Linked DNA regions of Homo sapiens. Each later gene encodes a partner of the first gene's protein in a complex. Each region holds a gene or a part of one and is shown on either strand. Other genes may lie near its edges.

The links.
Region 2: GTF2A1 (region 1) and GTF2H5 share a complex: the UniProt entries of both Homo sapiens proteins name them as parts of the TBP-based Pol II pre-initiation complex.

What each region holds. Positions count from the first base shown.
Region 1 is NC_000014.9:81,180,199-81,197,022, reverse strand, and holds part of GTF2A1 (transcription initiation factor IIA subunit 1), read left to right. Parts: intron 1-781; coding exon 782-915; intron 916-4,183; coding exon 4,184-4,504; intron 4,505-11,402; coding exon 11,403-11,492; intron 11,493-16,692; coding exon 16,693-16,800; 3' UTR 16,801-16,824. UniProt on the Homo sapiens protein: TFIIA is a component of the transcription machinery of RNA polymerase II and plays an important role in transcriptional activation. TFIIA in a complex with TBP mediates transcriptional activity.
Region 2 is NC_000006.12:158,166,997-158,183,820, reverse strand, and holds the start of GTF2H5 (general transcription factor IIH subunit 5), read right to left. Parts: upstream 15,472-16,824; 5' UTR 15,426-15,471; intron 13,352-15,425; 5' UTR 13,318-13,351; coding exon 13,283-13,317; intron 1-13,282. UniProt on the Homo sapiens protein: Component of the general transcription and DNA repair factor IIH (TFIIH) core complex, which is involved in general and transcription-coupled nucleotide excision repair (NER) of damaged DNA and, when complexed to CAK, in RNA transcription by RNA polymerase II.

The DNA.
Region 1 (16,824 bases):
ATACATAGTATCTCTTCATTGACAAAAGACCAATGTCTAGCTCATGTGTTTTGGCATATTGGTGCTTGAAAAATTTATTTACATGGATTTTAAGTGTTCCCTATAATCTTGATTATATAGTTATTATTTATTTTCTATTCTGTGTATGTTATTTTTGTTAATTTGTAAATTTGTGAAATTAGGGGCTTGTCTTGCTACATATTTTAATAAGATGTAATTTGCTTTTTAATCAATTCAAGATTCTGGGTTGTCTAAAGGAACATATTGGGGGAATTTGATTCTGTGTGAATTGTATGACAATGATGATAACTGGTTCTGTGAACTTTTATTGCTTTTACCAATTTTGAAGCAAAGTTCTTTGGTGCTTTGTTTGGTTCAAGATATTAAATGAGCTATTAAGCTTTTGTTCCTTTAAAGCTTTAAAAATGAACAGCTCCCGAAGTGTCTGATCTTACTGCTCTTTCTTCACTCCTAAGGTTAGCAAAGATAATGTAAGCTTTAGTCAAGTCTCATAATCTGTTGTTAAAACCTTGTTGGAAATAGCTGAATGAGGATGTAAATATGAAAAATAAAACATTTTAAGGAATGTATTTGAACATGGCGAGAAGTCAGAGAAGGGGAGGATTATGCATACTGTGTATGAATGACAACCTTTAATAAAATTGTTAGTTTTCTTGATAATTTCTTGTGCCTTTGGTGGTATGAAATTAAATATGAATTCATTTCTTTTGAGATGGTCACTGCTAAAATGATAACTCGGAATGCATGCTTTTTGCTTTAGGCCAGCTTCTTCAGGTGGTCAGAGCAGCCAATGGTGCCCAATATATCTTTCAGCCTCAGCAGTCAGTGGTTCTACAACAACAGGTTATACCACAAATGCAGCCTGGTGGAGTACAAGCTCCTGTTATACAGCAGGTAAAATAATCTTCTATTATGATCAGTATGGGGTTCTGTTTTATTCTGTATGTATTCCCTGGGTAGTTTCCCTCTCCTTATATGCACAAAAGACTCTTTTTCAGTGCTACAGACCCAGTTGTTTCAAATTTCTCCTGTATACAGCTTAACTTAGATTCAGCATGTATTAAACATGTATTAAACAATTACTGTTGTCTCTGCCCATCCTTCATCATCCCCTCGAAGGTGGCAGCACTCTCCTTCCAGCTTCCTAAGCTGGTCATTCAGCCTTTATTCAATAAGCAGTTACTGAGTCTCGGGGTATTCACAAGGGTCAGGGGATTTAGGAGTGAATGACACAGACATGACTCTAGTTTTATGATGCTTACTGGAAGTGGGTGTGTAGAATCCTCCCTTTTCCTTACCTCTAATACCCAAGGTATCAAGCCCTACCAATTCTTGTTAATAGTTTTTCTTTTCTTTTTTTTTTTTTTTTCGAGACAGAGTCTTGCTCTTTCACCCAGGCTGGAGTGCAGTGGCGCGATCTCAGCTCACTGCAACCTCTGCTTGCTGGGTTCATGCCATTCTCCTGCCTCAGCCTCCCAAGTAGCTGGGACTACAGGCGCCCACCACCACACTTGGCTAACTTTTGTATTTTTAGTAGAGATGGGGTTTCACCGTGTTAGCTAGGATGGTTTCTATCTCCTTACCTTGTGATCCACCCGCCTCGGCCTCCCAAAGTGCTGGGATTACAGGTGTGAGCCACTGCGCCCGGCCTTTTTTTTTTCTTTAACTGCAGTTTTGCCATGGTTGCAGTCCCTTAATATGTTTGACACTGTTTTTTTCTCAGCCTCTTTTTTCATTTCCTTAGTTCATACTGTCCATGATTTGTCACTAAAATGCTGCATTGTCTTCTTAATGGTTTCTCTGCCTCTCATCTTTTGCCCTCCTAACCTGGCTGATTTATAGTCATCTTTTTTTTTTTTTTTTTTTGAGACAGAGTCTCTGTCACCTAGGGTGGAGTGCAATGGCGCAATCTCAGCTCACTGCAACTCCCGCCTCCTGGGTTCAAGTGATTCTCCTGCCTCAGCCTCCTGAGTAGCTGGGATTAGTGGCACGCACCACTGTGCCCAGCTAATTTTTGTATTTTTAATAGAGACAGAGTTTCACCATGTCTAGGTTGGACTTGAACTCCTGACTTCAGGTGATCTGCCCGCTTTTGCCTCCCAAAGTGCTGGGATTATGGGCGTGAGCCACTGTGCCTGGCCTATCTTTCTAAAAATCCTAAAACTTTTAACAGCTTTTCATTGCCTACTGAGAAGAGCCTAAACAACTCAACATGGTTTATAAAATCTTTTTGTGGATCTTGTTTCTTTGAACTCTCCAGGTTTATTTCTTGCCATGCTCCCAGTTATTTTCTTTAGCTGCATTTACATCAAAATAAACACTTGGATCTACTTGTGTTATATTCTTGTGCTGTGGCACTAAAATGAAAGAGGAATGGTTATTTTCTTGAGGAACTTATGTACTTTATATGTTTATGTGTCTGTCTCTTTTTTAAATGTCAGTAAAATAGTATTATGATAGAGACAAGATCAGAGCAGTACTATTAATCCAGTTTATTTACATCTTTCCAAAATTATGTACTGCTGTCACTTCTGGGTTTCACTTGATGTTACACTTCTCTTAAGAATGCCGTCTGGCAACTCCCTGCACTTCCCCCAAACAAATAGAAAAACCTGGCTAATCTCCTTAAAGCAGCAGTCTCTTAGCTTTTTGACACCAGGGACTGGTTTTTGCAGAAGACAATTTTTCCATGTACTGGGCAGCAGGGATGGTTTCGGGGTGAAACTTTTAATTCAGGTCATCAGGCATAAGGAGTGCACAACCTCCATCCTTGCATGTGCAGTTCACAGTAGGGTTCCTGCTCCTATGAGAATCTCATGCTGCTGCTGATCTGACAGGAAGCAGAGTTCAGGTGGTGATGCTGGCTCATCCACCACTCACCTCCTGCTGTGCAGCCCAGTTTCTAACAGGGGTTGGGGACCGCTGCCTTTAAGCACAAACAGAAACTACTTACTAATAATATAAGTAATATTTGATCATGCTTTGTCCCCTAAGTTGAATTTGGTACACTCTCTTGTGTTCCCATAACACTGTGTCATATTTGTACTACATCTGCTGTGTTTTTGAGTTGTTAGTGCTTTGTCTATTATACCATTTTTTTGTCTTTTGTGTTGTTACACCACGTGTAAGCATTTTAAAGGAAATACTGTGTCTTATTTTTGCATTCCTTGAACCTAATGGCAAGTAACAAGCATCTAGTCCTCCTCCTTTATTATAATACATATAGTTAATATTTGTTAGTATATATTTTTTCAAGTTGTGGCTTACTTTAGAATCCTAGATGCAGAACCTGGAAAGGAACTTCAGAAATCTGATCTGGTGGTTTTTAGAAAAATAATTAGCTTTTATCTCACACTGAGTCAGAATATTAGGGGTATGGCCAAGGTATCAGTACTTTTTAAGTTGCCAGGTGGTTCATATTTGCAGCCAGGATTGAGAACCATTAAGCCTAGTTTGACAGTGAAACGACAGAGGCCAAGAGGAGTTAAATGACTTGCGTCTGCTGTATTTATGTCTGACTTTAGACAAAAGTAGACCCAGGTTGGCCAGGCGTTGTGGCTCACGCCTGTAATCCCAGCACTTTGGGAGGCGGGCGGATCATGAGGTCGTGAGTTCGAGACCAGCCTGACCAACATGGCAAAACCCCGTCTCTGCTAAAAATAACAAAATTAGCCGGGCATGGTGGCGCGCACCTGTAGTCCCAGCTACTCAGGAGGCTGAGGTGGGAGAATTGCTTGAACCCAGGAGGCAGGGGTTGCAGTGAGCCGAGATCACACCATTGCACTCCAGCCTGGGTGACAGAACGAGACTCCATCTATAAAAAAAAAAAAAAAAGGTAGACCCAGGTTTTCAGATTCTCAGTCCAGTGTTCTTCATGTGAAGGCAGTGTATAACTTTTGTCCTGGTAGCTGGCATATACATAGTATGTGCTCAATAAATGAAGCAGTTATCTTTAGAAAATCCTTATTTTCTAGAAATTTGATAAAATAGAAATTTAATGGGTCACTACACTAGTTAAACTAATTGCTTTTGTACTTTGGTAGTTTTTAACTGTGTATGAAATATGGCCATTCTGGTGAATCTTAAGCATTTGTTTCTATTTCTGTGTACCATACTTGATCCTCTTAACTAGTTACTGTTATGTGGTTTTCTTTTGCTTTAGGTGCTGGCTCCTCTTCCTGGAGGGATTTCACCACAGACAGGTGTCATCATCCAGCCTCAGCAAATCTTATTTACAGGAAATAAGACTCAAGTTATACCTACGACAGTGGCAGCACCTACACCAGCCCAAGCACAGATAACTGCAACTGGCCAGCAGCAACCGCAGGCCCAGCCTGCTCAAACACAAGCTCCATTGGTCTTACAAGTTGATGGAACTGGGGATACATCATCTGAAGAAGATGAAGATGAAGAAGAAGACTATGATGATGATGAGGAGGAAGACAAAGAGAAAGATGGAGCTGAAGATGGGCAGGTGGAAGAAGTAAGTTTCTAGTAACATACTTAAAATAATCTACTTGATTATTTCCTTTTTTAGTTGGTACAACACTGATAAATTATATCCTGTTTTTTTCAGAGACTGTTAGGTGCTGTACAACATAAGATTTTAAAGATAAAGTTAGATTGTTTTAACTTTAGTAAGGTTTTTATATTCTGGCTATATTTATCTTCATAAAATATAACTTTCATATAGCTGGTAATAAAAAATGTATAACAAATTAAATTGTATTAATATGTGTAGTAAAGAGTACAGGTAATTCTAACTCTGGCTTACGCATTTATAATGTGGCTTAAACATAAGACATTGGTAGATAAATAGATGTGGTTAATCTTTTGCTTCAGTAATTTAAAAAGCGTGGCAACATTTGGGGAGAGAGCAAACTCAAGAACCAAATGTCACAAATTTATTAAATATTTAAAACCTTTTGGTCCATGTTCTATACCACTTCCTTAAAAACCTATGTACCCTTAATGTCTGTGTTCTTCTAGAAGCATATAAATATGCCTTTGTTTTCCTCACTATTTCAGCTTAGTTACTAGGCTCCAAAAACTATTTGTCCCACCACAATTTTCACTGTTAATTGCCTTCGTTAGCCTAAAATGCAGTCTTTTTGTTTCTTAGTACAAAGTTCTTCTAAATTATCTAAGTAATTTTTTTTCTGAAGAAAACATAGTTTATTATTGAATATTGAATAGACACAAATGAATAGAAATGTTTCAAGATAAAAATCATCCTGGTGCCCACCATCTAGTTAAAATAAAATTCCATTATTTAAAGTGCCTTAGATGCCTCTCCCTAATCCCATCATTCCTAGGCCATCAAAGTACCTTTGCTCATACATTTGTGTTGATTATTAATTGCTTTTATATTTTACCATATATATTTATATTCCTAAATAGCATATTGTTTAGTTTTGCATGTTTACAACGTAAATGAAGTAATTACGTATTCTTCTGCAAGTTGGTTTTTTCCCCTTAAAATGATATTCCTGAGGTTTATCCAAGTTGTTGCATATAGCTATAATTATTTTCATTGCTGAATATACCATAATTTTATTTGTCAATTTTTCTAATCCAGTGGACATAAGGATTGTTTCTTGTTGTTTACTGTTACAAACAGTTATAAAATATTGTAGTGTATGTCTTCTGGGGACACAAATGCAAGAGGTTCTCTAAATTTTATACCGAACATTGAACTTCTGGCTCCTAAGTCATGCACATCTGCAACTTTATAATAAAATGCCAAATCACTTCTGCCATTCAATACATAATTGTGCAGATGTCCATACCCCCTTATCAATACCTGATAGTGTCAGGCTTCCTGATTTTTGCTGGTCTGGTAGGTAGAAAATAGTATTATTTCATTTTGGTTTTAGTTTGCATTTCCTCACTTAGGAGTTTTAGCCTCTTTTTGTATATTTATTTGATATTTGTGTTTTGTATAGAAGTGCTTATTGAGGTCTCTTGCCCGTTTCCTCCCCCTAAATTCTTCATAGTTTCAGTGCTTCTTGAAGTAACATGTTTTTATTACCTTTTCCAGTTTATTGGTAGGATGGAAATATGTAGCGCTTTTAATATTCATCCTTGAACCAGCCACCGTCCTAATGTCTTTTGTTAGTCCTCATAATGTATCTGTAGATTCTTTTGTATCTTCTGTGTAGACTTTCACATCTTATATGAAGAACGGCAGTTTTTTGTGGCTCATTGGCTAAGCCTTCGGGAACAGTATTGATTAGAAGTGGTGATAGCAGGCACTCTTCTCTTCTTCTTAAACTGAAAAGTAATCTTTTCCATGCTTCACTGTTAAGTTTAATGTTTGTTGTGGGTTTTCTTTTTTTTTAATGGATATCTTCATCAGGTTAAGTAAATTCCCTTCTTTGCATTGCTTTGTTTTTTAAACTGTAAGTGAATGTTGCATTTAATTAAACACCTTTTCTGCAATGATTTGTATAATTTCTCACGTAATGTTATTTATAATGGATTTCATTAATTGATTTTCTATTTGTAAACCAATCTTGTACTCCTGGGATAGCACAACTTGATCATTTTATATTTCTCTTTTTATAAATTGCTGAATTCATTTTGTTGAGGACTTTTTTGTAGATATTTATGATTGATAGATACTGTGTGATTTTCTGTTCTCATACTCTTCTTACAAGGTTTTCAGTTATGGTAGCTTTGTTAAATGAATTTGGGGACATGTTTCCTGTATTTTGAACTCTTTTTTTTTTTTCAAAGATTGTATTTAATTCTTCTGTTGATATTTGTTAAAACATGACACTACAGATACCTGGGTCTAGTAATCTCATGCCCTTCAAGTATTTTGTTTCTGTTTGAGACCGTTTTGATAAGTTATATTTTTCTAGGACTCTCTATATATTTATCTAAATTTTCAAGTTGATTAACATGAAGTTAATCATGATATTGTCTTTTTGATGCCAGAATCCTTTGTCATCTTCATTCCTAATATAATTATTGTGCCATCTTTTTTTTTCCCTGTTCAGTCTTACCAGGGATGTGTTGATTTTATTAATGTTTTCAAAGAGTAAACTTTTAGCTTTATTCTCTCTAGTGTGTTTTTCCCATTCTATTCTTTTCTGACTTAACTGTTTTGTTTGTAGAGAATATGATCTGTGTGATGTGTGAATCTTTTGAAATTGCTTGAGACTTGCTTGATTTGGTCAGTTTTTGTATATGCTTTGAAAAGAATGTGTTTTCTGCACTTGTTTGGTATTTGTATGTGTCTGTTAGATTTATATTGTCAGTAGGTTTGCTCAGATGCTCTTTATGTATCCTTGATATTTTTTGTGTGCTTGATCCATTTTTTTTTTGAGATGGAGTCTCGCTCTGTCACCCAAGCTGGAGTGCAGTGGCACTATCTCTGCTCACTGCATGCTCCATCCCCCGGGTTTACGCCATTCTCCTGCCTCAGCCTCCTGAGTAGCTGGGACTAGAGGTGCCCGCCACCTCGCCCGGCTAATTTTTTGTATTTTTAGTAGAGATGGGGTTTCGCTGTGTTAGCCAGGATGGTCTTGATCTCCTGACCTCGTGATCCGCCCACCTTGGCCTCCCAAAGTGCTGGGATTATAGGCATGAGCCACCGCGCCTGGCCACTTGATCCATTTTTTACTACTGAGTGAGATATGTTCATGTTTCCTGCTATGGTAGTTGATATATTTCTTCTTGTTTTTCTGCCATTTTTCCTTTTTGTATTTTGAGCCTCAAAACAGGTGCATGTAAGTTTAACATTCATTGTTTTTTCTCAGTGAGTTGAACCATTTATGATCATACAATGTCTTAAGTTATTGCTAGTAAATTTTTTTTAACCATGAAGTCTGTTTGTATGATACTGTTAGAGCTGTACCAGCTTTGTTGTGGTTAGAATTTGCCTGGTACAGCTTTTTTCATTCTTTCACTTTTCAAACATTTTGGATCTGTAAACTTAATCTTTTTAAAATAGAATATTGCTATTTATGCTATTTGTTGCAAAACTTTAACATCAACCAAGACTATTCAGTAGGGACAGAATAGTCTTCAACAAATTATGCTTGGACAATTAGATATCCGCATGCAAAAGAGTTAAGTTGGACCCCTACGGCATACCACATACAAAAATTAAAGTGGATTAGGGACCTACATCTAAGAGCTGAAATTATAAAACTCTTAGAAGAAAACATAGGGGTAAATCTCCATAGCTTTGGCAACAGTTTCTTTTTTTTTTTTTCGAGACAGAGTCTCACGCTATCGCCCAGGCTGGAGTGCAGTGGCGCGATGTCGGCTCACTGCAAGCTCAGCCTCCCGGGTTCACACCATTCTCCTGCCTCAGCCTCCCAAGTAGCTGGGACTACAGGTGCCCGCCACCATGCCCGGCTAATTTTTTGTATTTTTTTTTTTAGTAGAGACGGGGTTTCACTGTGTTAGCCAGGATAGTCTCGATCTCCTGACCTCGTGATCTGCCCACCTCGGCCTCGCAAAGTACTGGGATTACAGGCGTGAGCCATTGTGCCCAGCCGCTTGCAACAGTTTTCTTAGACATGACACCCAGAGTACAAGCAATCAAAGAAAAAGTGGACTTTGTAGATTAAAAAGGTGGTTTTTGTTTTTGTTTTTGTTTGAGACAGAATCTCACTCTGTTGCCCAGACTGGAGTGCAGTGGCATGATCGTGGCTCACTGCAGCCTCAGCATCTTGACCTCCCGGGCTGGAGTGATCTTTCTGCCTCAGCCTCCTGAGTAGCTGGGAGAAAATATTTGCAAATCATGTATTTGATAAGGATCTACTATCCAGAATATATAAAGAACTCTTAAACAGCGTAACAACAAAAAGATAATGCAATTTAAAAACTGGCAAAGAACTTGAATAGACATTTCTCCAAAGAAGATACACAAATAGCTAACAAGCATATGAAAAGATGCTCAGCATCATTAGTCATTAGAGAAATGCAAATGAAAACCACACTGAGATAACCACTTTACACCTTCTAGAATAGCTATACTCAAAAAAGAAAGAGAAAATAAATGCTGGTGAGGATTTGGAGAAATTGGAGCCCTTGTGCATTGTTGGTGGAAATGTAAAATGGTACAGCTGCTGTGGGAAACAGTTTGATAGTCCTCAAAAATTCAGTATAGAATTATCCATATGACCCAGCAGTTCCACTCTTAAATATATACACAAGAGAACTGAAAACATGTTTTTCAACAAAAACTTGTATGTGACTGTTCATAGCAGCCCTATTTATGATATCCAAGTGGTATAAACCCAAATGTTCATCAGCTGATAACAGTGGAATATTATTTAGCCATAAGAAGAATGAAGTATTCGTATATGCTACAACATGGATGAACCTTGAAAACATGCTATGTGAAAGACATCAGCCACACAACGCCACATATTATATGATTCCATTTATATGAAATATCCAGAATAGGCAAATCCATACAGACAGCAGATTATAGATTGCCAGGGGACAGGGAGAATGGGGAGTGACAGCTTAATAGGTAAGAGTGATGAAATGTTCTGGAACTAGGTAGTGGTGAGTGTTATATACACTGTAAATGTTCATTGCACCTGAATTGTACATGTACAAATGCTAAAATAGTGAATGTTGTTAACTTGAATTTTACCTCAGAGATTTTTTTTTTTTTTTTTGAGACGGAGTTTCACTCTGCTGCCCAGGCTGGAGTGCAGTGGTGCAATCTTGGCTTACTGCAGGCTCCGCCTTCTGGGTTCCCGCCATTCTCCTGCCTCAGCCTCCCGAGTAGCTGGGACTACAGGCACCTGCCACCATGCCCGGCTAATTTTTTTGTATTTTTAGTAGAGACGGGGTTTCACCGTGTTAGCCAGGATGGTCTCGATCTCCTGACCTCGTGATCTGCCTGCCTCAGCCTCCCAAAGTGCTGGAATTACAGGTGTGAGCCACCACGCCTGGTGTAGAAAATTTTTTTCATTTTACATTGATGATACCTATTTTAAATTAAAGAATATCTATACATACACACCTGTGTAAGTAGGTATAGGCCTAGACATAATAATTTTTTTTTTTTGTTCTTATTGTTGATATAGAGTCTCAGGTTGTTGTCCAGGCTGGAGTGCAATGGTGTGATCAAGGCTCATAGCTTCAACCACCTGGGTTCAAGTAATCCTCCCACCCTCATCCTCCTGAGTAGGTGGGACTATAGGCATATGCCACCATACCTCGCTAATTTTTTTTATTTTTTGTAGAGGTGGCATCTCACTGTATTTCCCTGGCTGGTCTCAAACTCCTGGCCTGAAGTGATTGTCCCGCCTAGGCCACCCAAAGTGCTAGAATTAACAGGCATGAGCCACTGTGCCTGTCCATAATATAGTCTTGATTATTGTCTTCTCTACTTTGGTTTTGTCTTCTCTTTCTGCATTTATTAGAAATCTCAGTTACATCTTCTATCTTCTGTCACAATTGAAGCGAAATTTAACATGGTTGTTTATTTTATGCTCTAGTTAGGTTTTATCTTGGCCCCTAACTCTCTTTAATGCTGAGATTTCCTACTTTCTGCCTTTAAGAAAAAAAAAAAGTCTGAATCTTAATTCTGCTTCATACCTCTACCATAACCATCATCATGCTAAACATGCTGATTTGTATTTAGAGTCCAAGTTCTTTAATGTAAAGACAGCAAGGCAGACTGCTAGCCTATTGCATTGCTCTTCTTTTCTCCTCTAATTTCTCCACTGTTTTCTGTTTTATATGATTTGTAGTACATAGTGCCATTAGCTCTTTTGAACCTTCATATTAGGTCCTTTTCTAGGCATCTTAAACAGTTATTGTAGAGAATTATCTTCTTGTACTGTTTTTAAAAAATAAAGAAAATAAAGATAGGCCGGGTGTGGTGGCTCACGCCTGTAATCCCAGCACTTTGGGAGGCCTAGGCGGGGTGGATCACGAGGTCAAGAGATCAAGACCATCTTGGCCAACATTGTGAAACACCGTCTGTACTAAAAACACAAAAATTAGCTGGGTGTGGTGGCGCGTGCCAGTAGTGCCAGCTACTGGGGAGGCTGAGGCAGGAGAATTGCTCGAAGCCGGGAGGCAGAGGTTGCAGTGAGCCGAGATTGCACCAGCCTGGCTACAGAGCGAGACTGTGTCTCAAAAAAAGAAAGAAGAAAATAAAGATAAACATCTTTTCAGACTTAAAAATTACATAGCTTAGCTAATTTAATTATATTTAATTTCTTACATTTCAGTAATATTGGCAAACTGTTAACAGCTGATTTGACAATATTAAATTCATGGCGTACATATATGCATTTGGCATTTGGTTCTCAAAGAACATCAAGGTCATTATATTTTTTTTTTCAGTGAATATTAAGGCCTTCTTATAGTAATAAGAACTCTCCTTTTATTTGTAGGAGCCCCTCAATAGTGAAGATGATGTGAGTGATGAGGAAGGACAGGAACTCTTTGACACAGAAAATGTTGTTGTATGCCAATATGATAAGGTAAGGATGTCATCTTCAGATTACTGACGTTATTTGTGTTGTAATTTCTTCCCTACATTATTCTTTCTGCCTTATTGAAACATTTGGGCAGCTGATTCATGCCTCTTAAATTCATTATGAATAGTACGAAAACCCTGTTAGAGTTTTGTGGATTATTTTAATAGAATGAAAGATTAATTTCTTAGCTTTATGTTTGAAAAATAAGTTATGAATGAAATGAAAAGAGCTACGATCTTCTTTTTCTATTTAGACAGTCTTTGAACTTGTAAGCAGAGTAAACAGCCACTTTGAGGTTGTCCTTTGTGGTAATAGCTAACTCAATGAGATAATTCTGTTTTCTATTTAGCCTCAACTATCTCAAAACTAGAAGGGTTCAATTGAATCTCTGTAACTGTTTTTATTATTAAGGAAAAGACTAAGGCAATGAACAGTGCTAAAAACAAACATAAGTTTTTACTGAAAATTATTTAAAATATTATTTAACTTTGCTGTAGTTTGCTAACATTAAGGAATTTTTAAACCAGATACTGTGAAAACTAGCCATTGATTCCTTATTTTCTTAATTCCTAGACAGGGTGCTTCTTTCCAAGTATTTTTGTTACATTTATTTGTATTATTTCTGAGATTTTTGTTTTCAAGACATTTAAATTGTAATACAGTTTTTTTATTGCAATCATTAAATTTATAATGCATGCAAATATTACGTTGCATTTATAATTTTAGTAGAGATCTTTACCAAATGCTAAAAATTCTAACAAAAGCTTATTTATTCAACATTTATAGAGTGCGGAAATTTACCAGACACTATTCTAGGCCCTGGCGATGTAGTTATGAACATGTAAAATTCATGCCTTGCATGAAGTTTCCTTTATAGATGAAGAAAATCTTAATTCTGTTGCTTTTATGGAAATGAATGTGATAAGTAGCCGTGCTTACTTCAAACAGATCTATAGGGAGAATGCCAACACTATGGATCTTATTTACTAATAAAAAGGTGGAGTTAGGCTAGTTTTACCAGTGAAGTTATAGAATGAAGACAGTAAGGTCATTGAGAGTTTCACAGCATTCATTTTTGTGCATAATGACTTCTGAGAGACTGTTCTTAAAACCATATACCATGTGCAGTATAATAAATGTAATTTCCTGTTAGATACACATAGAGCAAGACTATGAGGTTAAAACAAAAGATACCATTAAATCTTTATTGTTAGGAAGTCTCAGAGGATCTCCTTGCAACCAAATTATCCAGAACACAATTTCATGATGAGATGTCAGATTTATCAGGCAAGCGAGGACCTTTGTTTTAGCCTGACTGAAGAATATACTTTTAAGTGTCTTCCTACTTTAAGACAATGGTTGTATTCTCCTTTGGCACAAACTGTACTCATAATATTTTAAATGTTAAAATTGGTTTGTTTTGCTCCCAGAGACATTACTTTACTGTTTTAAATTAGTAAGTGGGAGATAGCTCTAAATGGTGTGCTGAATGATAAATAATTTTAAAATTTGCAGAGGTCTAATTTTGAGAATCAAATGAATTGCTCTGAAGATTGGAGGAGGGTGGTGGCTTGATGTCTTTAGCCAATAGTAAAGAACAGCAGTTTTCTTTGACTGCGCAAAATGAGGTTGGATATTGTTTGAGCCAACTTGAATTTCAGGAATGTAGTTTTGAAGCCTTAACTTTAGAATGTCAACAATGAGTCAATTTTAGAAGAGATCATAGAACGACTAATAAAGCTTGTATTGCCAATCAAATCAGAATCTTAGTTAAATGCTAATAATATGGTAGAGTTCTTGCTTACGTGTGGGTGGATAAGGGCTGATACAGCATTTAGCGAAAATAGCATCAGATGTAGGTAAACTTGCTTTAACACATTTTTAATTAGGAAATTTAAGAGGGCTTTCTCCTGGCTTTAAGAATATTCCTTCATGAAGGGCTTAGGGCCGGTAAATAGATTGCTTTTTAAGTTGTGACTTTGTACTTCTATTAATATAAAAATATTTACCATTTATTACCCAACATGACTTCAGTGTTGACTGTGTGGATTAGTTGGCCCATGAAACTTTGGTACATTTATTTTTTGCAAATTGTCCTGTCCTATGACAGAATGCAGGCAGTTTCTTTACTTGTCTATAGAATCTCTTATTTCCTGGCTACTCATCACTTTCTTGTTTTTGTCTAGCTAAGCCCACGGTCTTTCTGGTTGCAGTCACTTGGTTCATGCTGGAAATACATTTGTATACACGTTTGTAGAATAAATAATACTTTATAGGAATTCAAAGATAAGGGGAGACAGCTCTTTTCATGTGCAACAGATACTGTTTATGATGTCCCTTGGCACTATTCTTGGAGCTTGAGATACACTAATGATCAAAACAGAACAGTCCCTGCCATTGGGAAGCTTACTCCAATCAGGGGAGATAGATGCTAAAACATAATAAATTAGGATTTATTTACTTATTTAAAACATAATAAAATATTTATATGTTAGAAGCTGATAGTCGGTATGGAAAAATAAAGAGCAGGGAAAGAGGACAGGTTTGGTTTCAGTTTTAAATAGGATAGTCATAGTAGGTCTTTGGAGAAAATGACATTTTAGCAAAGACTTGGAAAGAGTTAGCCCTGTCATCTGGTGGCAGAGTCTGTTGTATGTGAGGAACAGCAAGGAGGCCTGTGTGGCTAGACTGGAGTGAGGGAAGAGGAGAGTACAGTAGTAGGTAGAGAGGTAAGGGAAGGCAGATAGTAAGGATTTTGTAAGGACATGGCTCTTACTCTTAAGTGAATCAGAAAGTTATTGGAAGGTTTCAGTGAGACAAATGGTATGAACTGATTTAAATTTTGAAAGGATTACTTTGCTTTCTTTGTAGAGAGCATAATATGAGGAGGAAGCAGAGGTTGCTGAAACGAGACTATTTAGGGGGATATTATAATAATTCACATGGGAGATAATGATGACTCGGCCTATGGTGATGGTATTAAAGTTGGTGAGAAGTAGTTGGATTTTGGATTTGTTTTGAAGGAAGAATGTTAACAGCATTTCCTGACTCTGAGATTTGTGGTAGAAAAGAAAAAGGAATCAAGAATGACTCTTGAGATTTTTTGATGAGGATTCTGAAAGAAGGATGGTGATACCATCAGTTCAGATGAGGAAAAGCTGCATGTGGAGCTGGTTGGACATGCCAAGTCTGGTATGTCCGTTAGACATTCAAGTCATCAATCTTAAGATGCTACATTTAGCATTTATGTAGTGTATTTAGACCAGAGATATAATTAGTTCTTAATCCAACAGTCTTTACCCTACCTGCTGTTTTACCTTTATTGTGCTTTGTTTTGCTTTAATAAGTAAGCAAAGTTTGAATCCAGAAGAAGAACATGAGAGTAGTTTCCAAATAAGATGAAGGTTGTTTGATTGAGTGATTTTTTTTTTTTAAGTCTCAAAAAGCAGAGCTAGGATCAATAAATGGAAGTTGGAGAAGCAGATTTCCGTAAGGGTAAACTCTGAAAGATTTTACAAGAGAGCTGTTCCAAAAAGGAATAACTTAATTTGAAATTCTTTGCTCACTGTTTCTAATCGTATTTAAGCAGACACTGCACAACCATTTGCCAGGAATATGTCATGAAGAATGTTTGCACTGGGAGGTTAGGCCATGGAATTTTAGGAATGAGATCTCAGAAAATATCTGTACCTGGCCGGGTGCAGTGGCTCACGCCTGTAATCCCAGCACTTTGGGAGGCCGAGGTGGGGGATCACCTGAGGTCAAGAGTTCAAGACCAGCCTGGCCAGCCTGGTGAAACCCATCTCTACAAAAATACAAAAATTAGCTGGGCGTGATGGTGAGTGCCTGTAATCCCAGCTACTCAGGAGGCTGAGGCAGGAGAATCACTTGAACCTGGGAGGGGGAGGTTGCAGTGAGCCAAGATCGTGCCATTGCACTCCAGCCTGGATAACAGAGTGAGACTCTGTCTCAAAGAAAAAAAAGAAAAAGAAAATATCTATACCTGTTGAGCATTTCTGCATTATTATATGAAACAGACTGATTTAGTAAAAGCGTACTGGACCAAGACTTGAAAATCATGATTGTCACTTAGTAGCAGTATACACTTGGTCAAACCATTGAACCCTATCCAATCTGTCATTTCTTCTTCTGAAAATGAAAGCCTGAACTAGTTGATTTTTTTTTTTTTTTAGGTACCTTTAGATCATAGAATAGGGAGAACCAGGGGGCCTTCTTTGCAGAAGATGTGGAACTTGAACATTAAATAATTAGTGTGACTTACTGGGAAAAGGAAGAAAGGTCACTTCAGTTCATTAAGTTTTACAACTCCTCTCCCCCACCAAATCCATGGAATTACAAACAACTACGGACTATAAGTGAAGGCAAAGATGGGAGTGCCCAGAGCCTGCCCTTCAGCTCTTTTTGTTTAACTGTGGATGTACATAGTTTTTGAAATCTGGTGTAAGTGACTGGATGATTAGCATCCTTTAGATGTATTTTTAAAATACTGCTATGTATAAGGTTCCATGGTAGTTAGGTCTTGAGAACTCTATAAGGAGTTTTATTTTGGTAGAAGAAATGAGTCCATAATTGTATTACTTACAAATAATGTAAGAAATGTCAATGAAAATACCATTGGGAATTTAACAGTGGAAAAGAATAGTTTTAGCTGGTAAGATTTGGGAAAGCTTTGTGGAGGATAGTCTTTTTGAGGTAGACCTTGAAAATATATATGCAAACCTGGTAGAGAGATAAGACATTTTGTAAAGAAATATTTTTTAACTACTTTAATGAACACAAGTACTAAAAGCTATAAAATAGTACTAATTACAGATAAATTTGTTTTTAGACCCACCTAGTGAGTTTTGTGTGTGGTTTTTTTGTTGTTGTTGTTCTTTTTGGTGAAATTAAACTTTATTAAGAAACCAATTTTTAGGCCAGGTGCTGTGACTCACGCTTGTAATCCCAACACTTTGGGAGGCTGAGATAGAAGGATCACGTGAGGCCAGGAGCTCGAGCCCAGCCTGCACAACATAGGAGACCCTTCTTCTACAAAAACAAACCAATTTGCAAATACAATACTGTAAATACTGTTTTGTGGGGGGGTGTGTGTGTACGTGTGTGTGTGTATGGGTTTTTTGTTACTTGTTTTCTCTGTTTTCTGATTGTATCTCTCAATTTTTAAAATGTTGTTTTTGTTTAGATACACAGAAGTAAAAACAAATGGAAATTTCATCTCAAGGATGGCATTATGAATCTTAATGGAAGAGATTATATATTTTCCAAAGCCATTGGAGATGCAGAATGGTGAAGAGTTGCTTTTTTTCTTTTATAA
Region 2 (16,824 bases), on another chromosome or scaffold:
CAAGGGAAGCTATGAGTGACTATACCTGGAGGAGCAATACACTCCAGCCCAAATGCTGCACTTTTCCCACTGTCTTCGCAACAAGCGGACCAGGAGATCCCCTCCTGTGCCTGGCTCGGTGGGTCCCACGCCCACGGAGCCTTGCTTGCTGCTAGCGCAGCGTCTGAGATTGACTTGGGACACCGGAGCTTGGTGGGGGGAGGGGTGACCGCCATTGCTGAGGCTTGAGTAGGCGGTTCCATGCTCACAGTGTAAACAAAGCAGCAGGGAAGCTCAAATTGGGCAGAGTCCACTGCAGCTCAGCAAGGCCTACTGCCTCTCTAGATTCCACCTCTGAAGGCAGGACATATCTGAACAAAAGGCAGCACACAGCTTCTCCAGACTTAAACGTCCCTGCCTGACAGCTCTGAAGAGAGCAGTGGTTCTCCCAGCATGGCATTTGAGCTCCGATAATGGATAGACTGCCTCTTCAAATGGGTCCCTGACCCCCATGTAGCCTGACTGGGAGACACCTCCCAGTAGGGGCTGACAGACACCTCATACAGGCAGGTGCCCCTCTACGATGAAGCTTCCAGAGGAAGGATCAGGCAGCAATATTTACTGTTCTGCAGCCTCCACTGGTGATACCCAGGCAAACAGGGTCTGGAGTGGACCTCCAGCAAACTCCAACAGACCTGCAGCTGAGGGTCCTGTCTGTTAGAAGGAAAACTAACAAACAGAAAGGAGTAGCATCAACATCACCAAAAAGGACATCCACACCAAAACCCCATCCATAGGTCACCAACATCAAAGACCAAAGATAGATAAAACCACAGAGATGGGGAGAAACCAGAGCAGAAAGGCTGAAAATTCCAAAAACCAGAACACCTCTTCTCTTCCAAAGGAACACAACTCCTCACCAGCAAGGGAAGAAAACTGGATGGAGAATGAGTTTGACGAGATGACAGAAGTTGGCTTCAGAAGGTCGGTAATAACAAACTTCTGTGAGTTAAAGGAGGATGTTCTACCCATCGCAAGGAAGCTAAAAACCTTGAAAAAAGTTTAGACGAATGGTTAACTAGAATAACCAGTGTAGAGAAGAGCTTAAATGACCTGATGGTGCTGAAAACCACAGTACGAGAACTTCGTGAAGCACATACAAGCTTCAATAGCCGATTTGATCAAGCAGAAGAAAGGATATCATTGATTGAAGATCAAATTCATGAAATACAACAAGAAGACAAGATGAGAGGAAAAAGAATGAAAAGAAATGAACAAAGCCTCCAAGAAATATGCGACTATGTGAAAAGACCAAATCTACGTTTGATTGGTGTATCTGAAAGTGACGAGGAGAATGGAGCCAAGTTGGAAAACACTCTTCAGGATATTATCCAGGAGAATTTCCCCAACCTAGCAAGGCAGGCCAACATTGAAATTCGGGAAATACAGAGAACACCACAAAGATACTCCTCAAGAAGAGCAACCCCAAGACACATAATTGTCAGATTCACCAAGGTTGAAATGAAGGAAAAAATGTTAAGGGCAGTCAGAGAGAAAGGTCAGGTTACTCACAAAGGGAAGCCCATCAGACTAACAGCGGATCGCTCCGCATAAACCCTACAAGCCAGAAGAGAGTGGGGGCCAATATTCAATATTCTTAAAGAAAAGAATTTTCAACCCAGAATTTCATATCCAGCCAAACTAAGCTTCATAAGTGAAGGAGAAATAAAATCCTCTACAGACAAGCAAATGCTGAGAGATTTTGTCACCATCAGGCCTGTCTTACAAGAGCTCCTGAAGGAAACACTAAACATGGAAAGGAACAACCGGTACCAGCCACTGCAAAAACATGCCAAATTGTAAAGACCATCGATGCTAGGAAGAAACTGCCTCAATTAATGGGCGAAATAACCAGCTAGCCTCATAATGACAGGATCAAATTCACACATAACAATATTAACCTTAAATGTAAATGGGCTAAATGCCCCAATTGAAAGACACAGACTGCCAAATGGGATAGAGTCAAGACCCGTTGGTGTGCTGTATTCAGGAGACCCATCTAATGTGCAAAGACACACATAGGCCCAAAATAAAGGGATGGAGGAAGATCTACCAAGCGAAAGCAAAGCAAAAAAAAAAAGCAGAGGTTGCAATCCTGGTCTCTGATTAAAAACAGACTTTAAACCAACAAAGATCAAAAGAGACAAAGAAGGCCATTACATAATGGTAAAGGGATCAATTCAACAAGAAGAGCTAACTAACCTAAACGTATATGCACCCAATACAGGGGGACCCAGATTCGTAAAGCAAGTTCTTAGAGACCTACAAAGAGAGTTAGACTCCCACACAATAATAACAGGAGACTTTAACACCCCACCATCAATATTAGACAGATCAATGAGACAGAAAATTAACAAGGATATCCAGGACTTGAACTCAGCTCTGGACCAAGTGGACCTAACAGACATCTACAGAACTCCCCGACCCAAATCAACAGAATATACATTCTTCTCAGCATCCCATCACACTTATTCTAAAATTGACCATATAATTGGAAGTAAAACATTCCTCAGCAAATGTAAAAGAACAGAAATCACAACAAACTGTCTCTCAGACCACAGTGCAATCAAATTAGAACTCAGGATTAAGAATTCACTCAAAACCACACAACTACATGGAAACTGAACAATCTGCTCCTGAATGACTACTGGGTAAATAACAAAATTAACGCAGAAATAAAGATGTTCTTTGAAACCAGTGAGAACAAAGATACAACGTACCAGAATCTCTGGTACATATTTAAAGCAGTGTGTAGAGGGAAATTCATAGCACTAAATGCCCACAAGAGAAAGCAGGAGAGATCTAAAATCGACACCCTAATATCAAATTAAAAGAACTAGAGAAGCAAGAGCAAACAAATTCAAAACCTAGCAGAAGACAAGAAATAACTAAGATCAGAGCAGAACTGAAGGAGATAGAGACAAAAAAACCCTTCAAAAAAAAAAAAAATCAATGAATCCCGGAGCTGGTTTATTTTAAAGATCAACAAAATAGATAGACCGCTAGCAAGACTAATAAAGAAGAAAGAGAGAAAAATCAAACAGACACAATAAAAAATGATAAAGGGGATATCAACCCGATCCCACAGAAATATAAACTACCATCAGAATACTATAAACACCTCTATGCAAATAAACTAGAAAATGTAGAAGAAATGGACAAATTCCTGGACCATACACCCTCCCAAGTCTCAACCAGGAAGAAGGTGAATCTCTGAATAGACCAACAGCAGATTCTGAAATTGAGGCAATAATTAATAGCCTACCAACCAAAAAAAGTCCAGGACCAGATGGATTCACAGCCAAATTCTACCAGAGGTACAAAGTGGAGCTGGTACCATTCCTTCCGAAACTATTCCGATCAACAGAAAAAGAGGGAATCCTCCCTAACTCATTTTGAGGCCGGCATTGTCCTGATACCAAACCCTGGCAGAAACACAACAAAAAAAGAGAATTTTAGGCCAATATCCCTGATGAACATCTATGCAAAAATCTTCAATAAAATACGGGCAAACCGAATCCAGCAGCACATCAAAAAGCTTATCCACCACGATCAAGTCAGCTTCATCCCTGGGATGCAAGGCTGGTTCAACATACGCAAATCAATAAATGTAATCCATCACATAAACAGAACCAATGACAAAAACCACGATTATCTCAAAAGATGCGGAAAAGGCCTTCGACAAAATTCAACAGCAGAAAAGGCCTTCGACAAAATTCAACAGCCTTTCATGCTAAAAACTCTCCATAAACTACGTATCGATGGAATGTATCTCTTATTATCTCATAATAAGAGCTATTTATGACAAACCCACAGCCAATATCATACTGTATGGGCAAAAACTGGAAGCATTCCCTTTGAAAACCGGCACAAGACAAGGATGCCCTCTCTCACCACTCCTATTCCACATAGTATTGGAAGTTCTGGACAGGGCAATCAGGCAAGAGAAAGCAATAAAGGGTATTCAGATAGGAAGAGAGGAAGTCAAATCATCTCTGTTTGCAGATGACATGATTGTATATTTAGAAAACCCCACCATTTCAACCCAAAATCTTAAGCTGATAAGCAACTTCAGCAAAGTTTCAGGATACAAAATCAATGTGCAAAAATCACAAGCATTCCTATACACCAATAACAGACAAACAGAGAGCCAAATCATGAGTGAACTCCCATTCACAATTGCTACTAACAGAATAAAATACCTAGGAATACAACTTAACATGGGATGTGAAAGACCTCTTCAAGAACTACAAACCACTGCTCAAGGAAATAAGAGAGGACACAAAGGGAAAAACATTCCATGCTCGTGGATAGGAAGAATCAATATCGTGAAAATGGCCTTACTGCCCAAAGTAATTTATAGATTCAATGCTATCCCCATCAAGCTACCACCGACTTTCTTCACAGAATTGGAAAAAACTACTTTAAACTTCATATGGAACCAAAAAAGAGCCCACATAGCCAAGACAATCCTGTGCAAGAAGAACAAAACTAGAGGCATCACGCTACCTGACTTCAAACTATACTACAAGGCTACAGTAACCAAAACAGCATGATACTGGTACTAAAACAGATATATAGACCAATGGAACAAAACGGAGGCCTCAGAAATAACACCACACATCTACCACCATCTGATCTTTGACAAACCTGACACACACAAGCAATGGGGAAAAGATTCCCTATTTAATAAATGGTGTCGGGAAAACTGGCTAGCCATATGCAGCAAACTGAAACCGGACCCTTTCCTTACACCTTATACAAAAATCAACTCAAGATGGATCAAAGACTTAAACATAACACCTAGGACCATAAAAATCCTAGAAGAAAACCTGGGCTTCATTCAGGACACAGGCATGGGCAAAGACTTCATGTCTAAAACAAGAAAAGCAATGGCAACAAAAGCCAATAATGACAAGTGGGATCTAATTACACTAAAGAGCTTCTGCACAGCAAAAGAAACTATCATCAGAGTGAACAGGCAACCTACAGAATGGGAGATTTTTGCAATCTACCTGTCTGACAAAGGGCTAATATCCAGAATCTACAAAGAACTTAAACAAATTTACAAGAAAAAAGCAAACAACCCCATCAGAAAATGGGCAAAGGATATGAACAGACACTTCTCAAAAGACGACATCTATGCAGCCAACAGATATATAAAAAAATGCTCATCATCACTGGTCATTAGAGTAATGCAAATCAAAACCACAATGAGATACCATCTCACACCAGTTAGAATTGCGATCATTAAAAAGTCAGGAAACAACAGATGCTGGAGAGGTTGTGGAAAAATAGGAATGCTTTTTTTTTTTTTTTTTTTTTGAGATGGAGTCTCGCTCTGTCTCCCAGGCTGGAGTGCAGTGGCACAATCTTGGCTCACTGCAAGCTCCACCTCCTGGGTTCATGCCATTCTCCTGCCTCAGCCTCCTGAGTAGCCACCATGCCTGGCTAATTTTAATAGAGACGGGGTTTCACCGTGTTAGACAGGATGGTCTCGATCTCCTGACCTCGTGATCCGCCTGTCTTGGCCTCCCAAAGTGCTGGGATTACAGGGATTACAGGTGTGAGCCACCGCGCCCAGCCAGGAATGCTTTTACAATGTTGGTGGGAGTTCAACCATTGTGGAAGACAGCGTGGCGATTCCTTAAGGATCTAGAACTAGAAATACCATTTGACCCAGCAATCCCATTACTGGGCATATTCCCAGAGGATTATAAATCATTCTATGATAAAGACACATGCACATGTATGTTTATTGTGGCACTATTCACAATAGCTAAGACTTGGAACCAACCCAAATGTCCATCAATGATAGACTGGATTAAGAAAATGTGGCACATATACACCACGGAATACTATGCAGTCATAAAAAAGGATGAGTTCATGTCCTTTGTAGGGACATGGATGAAGCTGGAAACCATCATTTTCAGCAAACTATCACAAGATCAGAAAACCAAACACTGCATGTTCTCGCTCATAAGTGGGAGGTGAACAATGAGAACACATGGACACAGGGAGGCGATCATCACACACCAGGGCCTGTGGGGTGTTGGGGTCTAGGGGAGGGATAACATTAGGAGAAATACCTAGTGTAGGTGACGGGTAGATGGGTGCAGCAAACTACCATGGCACATGTATACCTATGTAACAAAACTGTACGTTCTGCACATTTAACCCAGAACTTAAAGTATGATAACCACTGCAACCACAGATGCTGACCACATACTGTACCCTTCATGTGCTTTACCCAGCGCAGCCTGCATACCTTATCCCTGATGTCAATTCCCATGCTTTGCCTAATCAAAAAGTCCCCATCAGCTTTTTTGGGGGTCAGCCGCAGAGTTCTTACTACTGTACTGTCTCCCTTGCATTTGTGGATAAACCCTGAAATAAAAGCCTCATCTGGGAAAACTGTATAGCTCTGTGTTAATTTTTATTACATAGGGAGCCAAAGAGCCTGTGATCTGTAACAGCAATGTTAGTACCATAGCTACACTGCAAAGTTGATGGACTACAGAATATTTCTAAAACATCTTGCTCATAGTAGGTACTCAAATGAGCAATTAAAATGCCAAGACCATGTGAGAGGATATAGGCAGAGAGGTTTAAATTACAATTAGTTCTATCCCTATCAAATGATTTACTGTTGGGAACAGGCACCCCAAAATCTGGCCATAAACTGGCCCCAAAACTAGCCATAAACAAAATCTCTGAAGCACTGTGACATGTTCATGATGGCCATGACACCCACGCTGGAAGGCTGTGGGTTTACTGGAATGAGGGCAAGGAACACCTGGCCCACCCAGGGCGGAAAACCGCTTAAAGGCTTTCTTAAACCACAAACAATAGCGTGAGTGATCTGTGCCTTAAGGACATGCTCCTGCTGCAGATAACTAGCCCAACCCATCCCTTTATTTTGGCCCATCCCTTTGTTTCCCATAAGGAATACTTTTAGGTAATCTATAATCTATAATCTATAGAAACAATGCTCATCCCTGGCTTGCTGTTAACAAATAAGTGGGTAAATCTCTGTTCGGGGCTCTCGGCTCTGAAGGCTGTGAGACCCCTGATTTCTCACCCCACACCTCTATATTTCTGTGTGTCTGTCTTTAATTCCTCTAGCGCTGCTGGGTTAGGGTCTCCCAGACCGAGCTGGTCTCGGCAATTTACTATTTCAATTACAAAACCATTAACCTATGAATATATATGGTATAATTCTAAGACATACGTATATCCTTTTAAAAAGCAAACATAGGCTGGGCGCAATGGCTCACATCTGTAATCCCAGCATTTTGGGAGGCCGAGGTGGGTGGATCACGAGGTCAGGAGTTCAAGACCAGCCTGGCCAAGATAGTGAAACCCCATCTCTACTAAAACTTCAAAAATTAGCCAGGCATGGTGGCAGGCACCTGTAATCCCAACTACTTGGGAGGCTGAAGCAGGAGAATCGTTTGAACCCAGGTGGCAGAGGCTGCAGTGAGCCAAGATTGTGCCACTGCACTCCAGGCTGGGTGACAGTGAGACTCCGTTTCAAAAAAAAAACAAAAGCAAACACAATATTATACTTAGTTTTATAATGGAGAGATAGTATATGTAACGTTTAGTAGCCTGGGCTCTGGAGCCAGAATACCGGGATTTAAAATCCCAGTTTAACAATAGCTATGTAACTGAGCAATTGATTAATTGATACAAAGTATCTCACTTTGTACATCCATAAATGGAGATGACAGCACTTACCTCAAAGGGCTGTTGTGAAAACTAAATTAATATTAGCAAGTGCTTAGTATAGCACATGTCACATGGAAAACAGCGTTAGTACAGGAATCCAGGTGTTTTCACTTAACATCATTGTACAGTGTCATTTCCCTGAATCACTTAAAATGTCTGCAAATATTTTAACAGCTATATTATTTGATTAAAATATGCCACAATCAACAAATTTCTTTTTCTAGCACATTAAATACATACATTTTTATTGGCAGTTCTGATCATTTCCTAAAATTTTTTTTTTTTTTGAAATGGGGTCTCACTGTGTTGCTCAGGCTGGAGTGCAGTGGCATGATCTTGGCTCACTGCAACCTCTGCCTCTTGGGTTCAAGTGATTCTCCTGCCTCAGCCTCCCCAGTAGCTGGGATTACAGGCGTCCACCACCATGCCCAGCTAATTTTTGTATTTTTAGTAGAGACAGGGTTTTACCATGTTGGCCAGGCTGGTCTCAAACTCCTGACCTCAAGCCATCCACCCGCCTCAGCCTCCTGAAGTGTTGGGATTACAGGCGTGAGCCACTGCACCCAGCGATTTCCTAAAGATAAACTTATAGAAACGGAGTTATTGTGTTAAAGGATATAAAAGCACAAAACACCCATCACAAGTTGCTTACAGTTGTTTCTTGGGATTACACTTCCATCAGCAGCTTGGTGGGGTGCTTGCTTTTTAAAAGCTATGACTGGAAGACAACAGCCTCCTCATTTAAAAGCTATTTTGATATACAACATGCTAAAAGGAGGCCTAGTATACACATCTGTTTCAAACTAAAACTTTAATTTATCAAGAATCCCATCTTATTCACTGTGAATCTCACTGTAGGAATAGAGAGGCTCTAAAGGAACATTAATAAATTTGGGATTTTGGCTGAGATCACAAACCTGGACTCAATTCTGTTAACAAAATTTATTCAGTACACAAATATTTACTAAGCCATATCTATATATGTGTATGTGTGTGTGTGTGTATACACACACACACACACACACACACACACACACACATCTCAGGCACAGTTTTGGGTGCCTGGAAAACTTCAGCGAACATGGCCCTACTAAGAGGCAAAGGCTGAGAAAAGATTTATACATGCTGAGAAAAAAACAGAACAATGGTTAGACTGGTTTTGCCATACTTCTTACTTCGCTTCTCATAAACGATATAGCTTTAGAAGCCAAACTCATAAGGATAAGTGTAGTTTAATAATACATATTTCTCCAGATTCTTTGCTATTGTGATGTAAACTGGTTGGAATTTGCACCTTGGCAACAAATCTTTGCTGAAGCACTTGCCAAACCAATTGTGGCAACTGTTATACCAGAGGTCTGCTCCAGCATCTGGAACTGGACACAGACATACTGTGGTCATGTGTTGCTTGCTTTGGTAATTGCTTGGTGGCTAGATTTGGGAGAATACTTAGTGTGAGCCTGGCAATTGATGGTGGATCCCAACAAAGAGGAAATTTTCACCAACCTTTCAGTTTTGACATAAAAGTGCAAATTTATAAACATAAAACTTCTTTTATAGCCTTCAATTTTAGTATTTGATAAGCCCTTGGGAGTTAAGATTATATCCAAGTGCCCTGATTTTTCAATTCTCTGAAGGTGAGAATAAATGGCCATCATCATAATTTGGTTTACTTCTTTAGCAAATCTCTGCAGACTCAAAATCAGTTAAACTTAACTGATAGAAATGGAGTTTAAATATGGCAGTTAAGTGAAGCCAATCTAAGATATATGTGGATCAGCACTATATAAGCTATTACACATCAGTTTCTATTAATACAATGATGGGACTGGAATTTGGAGAGATTCCTGGGACAGTGGAAGCAGCTGTGAGATAGGAATTCAGCAGGACTAGTTTCCAAGACAAGAGAGACAGTAAACAACAGGTCAGAAGACCCCACCGATAAGCGAGGATACAGTAAAGAAACCAGCCAGAACCAAGATGGCAACAAAAGCAACCTTCACCACTATCATACACAAATCATAATGCATGCGCACGCTAAAAACCACCCCCACCAGCACCACGACAGTTTACAAATGCCATGGCAATATCTAGAAGTTACCCCGTATGGTCTGGACTGGGGACTCCTGGTTCCACAGAATCCCTGCCTCTTTTCCAGAAAACTCACGAATAATCCACCCCTTGTTTAACATATACTCAAGAAATGGCCATAAAATAGCCAGTTAGCAGGCCCGCCTGCTTCCCACCCTCCCCACTCCACTCTGCCTATGGGGTAGCCACCCTTTTATTCCCTCATTTTTAATAAACTTGCTTTCACTTTACTCTGTGGCTCATTCTTGAATTCTTTCCTGCATGAAGCCAAAAACCAACTTGGCTTCCAGGGCTGAGCCTCAATTTTGGTATTCACCTGCAACAGCTGTAGAAGATCCTTGAGTGGTCTGCCTGTAAACTCCAGACCTATCAAATTCCATACTCCAATACACCTAAATGCTTCATACAATCCATGGATATTATGAAGTAATAAACAGACTTATACTGATAATCATATTATTAACAGGCTTCTCCTTGGCATCAAATATGGACATGAGGGAAACTGAAGGACTTTTCCAGTTACCATCCTAACATCTGCATCTAACTGTGAAAGGGAATCCACTAGCACTGGCCATACCCTTTCCTTTGGGAATCTATGTTATTTCTTAGGCCCAAAATCTTTTTGGAAGACTTGTGTTTTTGGGAAGACAGAGTTACCCTTTTGAAAAATTGTGCAGACTACACTTTAGAATTCACTTCAAAGGGAAAAATTAGTTTTGCAAGGATGGTACCTAACCTGCAAAATAAAATTTAATAGTCCTGGTGCAAAACACTTCTCCACAGGGAAACATTATTAAACTGAAGCTGATTAACAGTATTATTGCTTCTCAAAATTTAAATGCATCTTAACAAGATTCTTTGTATGCACAATTCTGATTTAGTAGATTTAGGGTGAGGTCTGAGATTTTGCATTTCTAACAAGCTCCAGATGATGCTATTACTGCTAGTCTGGGGATTACCCTGAAGTGCAAGGTGATGGACAGTCATTAGAGAGACCAGGTAGAATTCAGAGGTTAGATACGGGACAGCAAACCGGGCACTGAGACTTCAGAGTCTCCCCAGAGTTTTGTTCTTTAAGATGCAATCCAGTCATCTTTTTTTTCAAATTAAAACGTAGGTTTAATGCAATTCCAACCAATATGCCAAAAGGATTATTTTGGAAACAGACTAAGTTATTTCAAGGTTATTCTAGAATAGGCAACAAGAAAGATGAATGTGGGAAGGGATGAAAGAGAATAGCAAGGGGAGTAAAATTATGTGATTAAGGAGGCATCAAGCATCATTAAGAAAGGAAATAATGGTGGAGAACTAGATATTTGGCAAAATGAACAGACAAAAACACCCAAAACAAAAAAGAAGCTAGGCTGGGTGCAGTGGCTCATGCCTGTAATCCCAGCACTTTGGGAGGCCGGGGCAGGTGGATCATGAGGTCAAGAGATCGAGACCAGCCTGGCCAACATGGTGAAACCCCATTTCTACTAAAAATACAAAAATAAAATTAGCCGGGTGTGGTGGTGTGTGCCTGTAATCCCAGCTACTCGGGCAGCTGAGGCAGCAGTATCGCTTGAATCCAGGAGCCAAGATCGCGCCACTGCACTCCAACCTGGCAACAGAGCAAGACTCCGTGTCAAAAAAAAAAAAAAGAAGCTAATTTAGATCCTTATCTAATAATATGTCTCTTCTCTGAATAAATTCTAGATGAATGAATCTAACACACCAAGAAAAACACAAAATCCCCACAAGAGAGAAGTGAATATTTAACAAACCTATGCCACTCCTCCCAATAAATTCTAGATGAATGAATCTAAAACACCAAGAAAAACACAAAACCCTCAGAAGAGAGAAGTGAATATTTAACAAACCCAGGGGTGAAGATTAAACTTAGAATTGGAAGAAACGAGGGAAAAAAAGTGATAGCTGACACTCTGTGTATGTGTATCCTCTGTATTTAAAAATAACACTAAAGGCCAACGAGGAAAATGTTTATGTTATGTCAAATTAATAGGAAAATAAGTACATCAAACCTAGTGCCTTCAAAAGACAACAGAACAGTGTGTTTAGAACTTCTGGGGTCCAGATCCCACCCCCTTTGCTTTTCCAAGTGAATACCTCTCCCCCGCAGTGGTTTACTCTCATCAACGTACATTCTAGTCTTTCACATTAAAATAAAAATAGCAAGAACCTGAGCCCCTCACCATGTCCTTCGTCAGCTACCAATCCAGTTCTCTATGAGATTGCTCATGATCACAGTAAAACTTCTCCGAAGTCTCCATCTCCACCTCCTCACCTCCCTTTCCTTTTCCACAGTACTTCAATCTGGCATCTCCCCACCACTCCATTCAAATGGCTCTCATCAAAACTCCAGTCTTCATCTCATGCCAGTTCTCAATCAGTGCCCAACACAGCCGCTCATCCCTACAAAACACTTCCTCCTTTGGCTTTCCTCCCTCCAGCCTCACTGGCTATTTTCTTCTTAGTTGCCTTTGTTGGTGTCTCCTGTATCAAAACTCCAAATCTGCACTATGCATAAGGTAGCCCACTAGTCAGGTCACTACAGAGTCCTTGAAACACGGTTAGTCTGTGAGATGTGCTGTAAAATTAAAATATCCATTCGACTTTGAAGATGAAGATTTTTTTGAAGACTTAGTATGTGTTCAAAGCATAGTGTTTTGCATAGACAGGGTTAAACAAAAGATATTAACTTCACCTGTTTCATTTTACGTTACTTTTAAGATGGCTAGAAAAAATGTAAGACTATATCTGTGGCTTGCATTAGATTTCTATTGGCTAGTGCTGTTCTAAATGTTGGCAGTGTCCTAGGGTTTGGTCTTGCTCCTCCTTAGCCTTGCCATCACAGTAAACAGTATCATTATCCATGCACTGGCTCATATTAGAGGCACCGAAAGTAGACAGTAGTATTTTCAGACAATGGGAGTGTCCACAGAGCAGGGTTCCCGGGGTTCCTGGACACTGGATTGCTTTGAGGAACTCAACTCTGCCCATTTATGGTTTTTAGTTTCTCCTCTGGAATGTACCTAAAGGAATTTAAGAAACCTCCATTTGGCTCTGTTGTTTTTCTCTTTTTTAAAGTCCACAGTTTGTAATGGTAAAGACTTAAGCAAGTTCCTGAACTCTTTCAGGCCCTAAAATTCATCATGTTTGAGGAGAATGCAAGCACTGTTTCTCTAAAGACGACTCATCTAACAAATATGCTGCCTCTGATCATGCCAGTTCCATCAATTCAACAGAGGGACTGAAATCTGGCACCAGGAGCTTTGCAACAAAATCTGTGCCACTTGTTAAAAGCGAAAGACTTGATTTCATCCATATCTTAAAAACAACAGGGTTTTAGAAAAGACATACATACAAGTCAAGATTCAATATTTAAACTTAAAACTCATGCAGTATCAAAACTACTAACCATTCTATAAGCACTCCTTTCAAGACGTTGACCATGTTTTCTCAGAAGGTTCAGATGACCTGAAGAATGCTAATAAAAAGAGTAAGGTAACATTAAATTAAAAATCATTAACTTTCATATACTTTGGGGATCTGCCTCTGAAACGAGGCAAAATAATTAAATGTCAATATTTAACAGTTAAGTCTATGAAAGACAGTTAACATTAAGAAAAAAGACATTCTGATTTTTTAACAAAATTAAAATGAGTCTACTTGGAATATTAATGCCACATCTTACTCGCCAGCCAATTCTACCCAAGGTCAATTAGCCCTAATAGAAGCAAGAGGCCTAACTCTACACCAGTGTGCCCAACCCAGGTATAAACCGTCCATTATTCAAAGGATTTCTTTTCCCATTCAGGAGAATGACAAAGGGTAAGATCCTGGGAGACAGGAATCAAAGAAGATAGTTCTGAAAGGTGCTTCAAAAATTATACAGTGAGCCCAACCACCTCCTTTTAGTTTATATTTTATTTTACTGAGACAGGGTCTGGCTCTGCCGCCCAGGCTGTAGTGCAGTGGCGCGATCTCTGCTCCCTGCAACCTCTTGCCTCCTGGGTTCAAGCGATCCTCCCACCTCAGCCTCCCGAGTAGCTGGGACTACAGGCATGCACTACTAAGCCCAGCTAATGTACTGTGTTGTATCGTGTGTGTGTGTGTGTATATATATACACACTTTTATATATAATATATAATATACAATATATAATATATAATATACAATATATTATATATAATATACAATATATTATATAATATATAATATACAATATATTATATAATATATAATATACAATATATTATATAATATATATTATATATTATATAATATACAATATATTATATGTAATATACAATATATGTAATATACAATATATTATATGTAATATACAATATATGTAATATACAATATATTATATATAATATACAATATATTATATATAATATACAGTATATTATATATAATATACTGTATATTATATATAATATACAATATATTATATAATATACAATATATTATATATAATATACAATATAATATATATAATATATAATATATATAATATACAATATATTATATATAATATATAATATACAATATAATATTATATATAATATATAATATACATATTATATATATGTATTATATATAATATACGTATTATATATAATATACATAATATACATATTATATATTATATATAAAATAAATATATATTATATATAAAATACATATATAATATATATATATGTATATATACACTTCGAGACAGAGTCTCACTCTGTCGCCCAGGCTGGAGCGCAGTGTCGTGATGTCGGCTCACTGCAACCTCTGCCTCCCGGGCTCAAGCGATTCTCCTGCCTCAGCCTCCCAAGCAGCGGGGACTACAGGCGCCCGCCACCACGCCAGGCCAAATTTTGTATTTTTAGTAGAGGCAGGGTTTCACCATGTTGGCCAGGCTGGTCTCGAACTCCTGATCTCAAATGATCCACCTACCTCGGCCTCCCAAAGTGCTGGGACAACAGGTGTGAGCCACCGCGCCAGGCCAATTTATTGTATTTTTAGTGGAGACGGGGTTTCACCATGTTGGCCAGGCTGGTCTCGAACTCCTGGCCTCAAGTGATTTGCCCGCCTCGGCCTCCCAATGTGCTGGGATTGCAGGCGTGAGCCACCGCGCCCGGCCTCAGCCACCTCATTTTACATATGAGGAGACCAAAGGAAGAGATTAAGCCGTAGTTCCTGGCCAAAGGAAAAAAGTACAAGCCAGATCTCCAGATCTTGTGCCCCTTCACTAAATAAATCACGTCCCGTGCGGACCTAGGCTGGAAACAAACCACTCAGCGTACGCCCATTTAATTAACTTCCACTTACACCTGGGCGCAGGGCGAGCCCTAGCCCCACAGGAAACCCACGATTAAACGAGGGGGGGACTGCCGTGCGGCCCCGCCAGGAAGGGCCCGGAGAGAGTGGGGGACACCGCCCTGTGCCCCCAGCACCCGGTGGACAGGCTTCTGGGGCTTTTCTCTTCCTCTCCCCTTTCTTTGGGACCCCTCAGTGTTCCCACACCCCACTTTCCCCAGCCGCTCGGACGCTCGCCACACACCTCGGCCCACAGATGCAGAAGCGCCTCGGCGTTGCCGGCAGAGTGCGCCTGCGCCGATACGCCATCGCGCTAGGGACGCTATTGTGGGTGGAGCCAGCCGGCGGGAGGCGGGCCCAGAGCGGGCCGAGGGGGCGGGGTCACGAGCCGCCAGCCGCCGGGTGGAGGGTCCCGGCCGGGAGCCGCGGAAAGAGTAGGGCTCCCCAGACAACGGGGTCCGACGAGCAGTTGGGCACGGGCTGAGTCCGCCTGCCGGCAGGTAGGACGTGAAGGCAGGGGTGGTGTGGGGGCGGACGGGGGCGTCGGCGCAGCTGGGCGCGGTGGGGAGCGGAGAATGGGGAGGGCAGGGACCGGGCACGGCCGAGCACCGCCGTCTGGCGCGCGGACCGGACCGACCAGCTGACGCTCGGCTGGGCGTGAGGGCCTCTCTCTCTGGTGGTCGCGAGCCTGACTCGTCTTTCCCTGTCGCTGCCTTTCTCTGGCTGCTGTCGAGGCCTTGGGGAGTGCACCTGCCGGTCCGTCTTCCCGGGCTCGGTAGTCACGGAGAGATGAGGAGGAGGAGGAAAGGGCCTCACCAGTCACTTCTGAGCCTTGCAGACCACCGCTTCCTGCTCCCTCTCTAACCCCAGAGATGGAATAGATTGAATGCTGAGAGAGCTCTAAACTCGGCAACGGTCATTTTAAAGTGAAAGACCCCAGAAGGTTCTAAAGTTACTCCCTTTCCCCAAGTCTGTTCTGTAAGTCTAAAGGAACACTGTCATTATTTTTACTAGTTGAGATATGAGATTCTTGTTTTCTGTTCCTTAGGTTAAATTGTACTTCCCGCATTAAGCTCATGCTGCCTTTTTTTTTTTTTTTTTTGAGATGGAGTCTCGGTCTGTCTGCCAGGCTGGAGTGCAGTGGCGCGATCTGGGCTCACTGCAACCTCCGTCTCCTGGGTTCAAGCAATTATCCTGCCTCATTCTCCCTAGTAACTGGGATTACAGGCGTGCGCTACCACGCCCGGCTGATTTTCGTATTTTTAGTAGACACGGGGTTTGTCCATGTTGGCCAGGCTGGTCTGGAATTCCTGACATCAGGTGATCCCCCGCCTCGGCCTCCCAGAGTGCTGCGATTACAGGTGTGAGCCACCGCGCCCGACCTCATGCTGCCTTTTTTTTTTTTTTTTTTTTTTTAACATCGTGTGTGTTCATGTGATCGCTAAGGAACCCAGCTCTTCCATTTAGTTCCCTCTTTCTATCCCTCAAATCTTTTCCAACTGGTGATTTCCATATTGTTGCACTCTCTTTAAAATAAAAAAATTGCCTCCAAGTCTTCTTCTTCCCAAGTATCTTTTATTTGCTTTTTTTCATCTTGCATACATTCTCTTCCTTGATCTCATCAGTTCCATTTTTGTGCACTT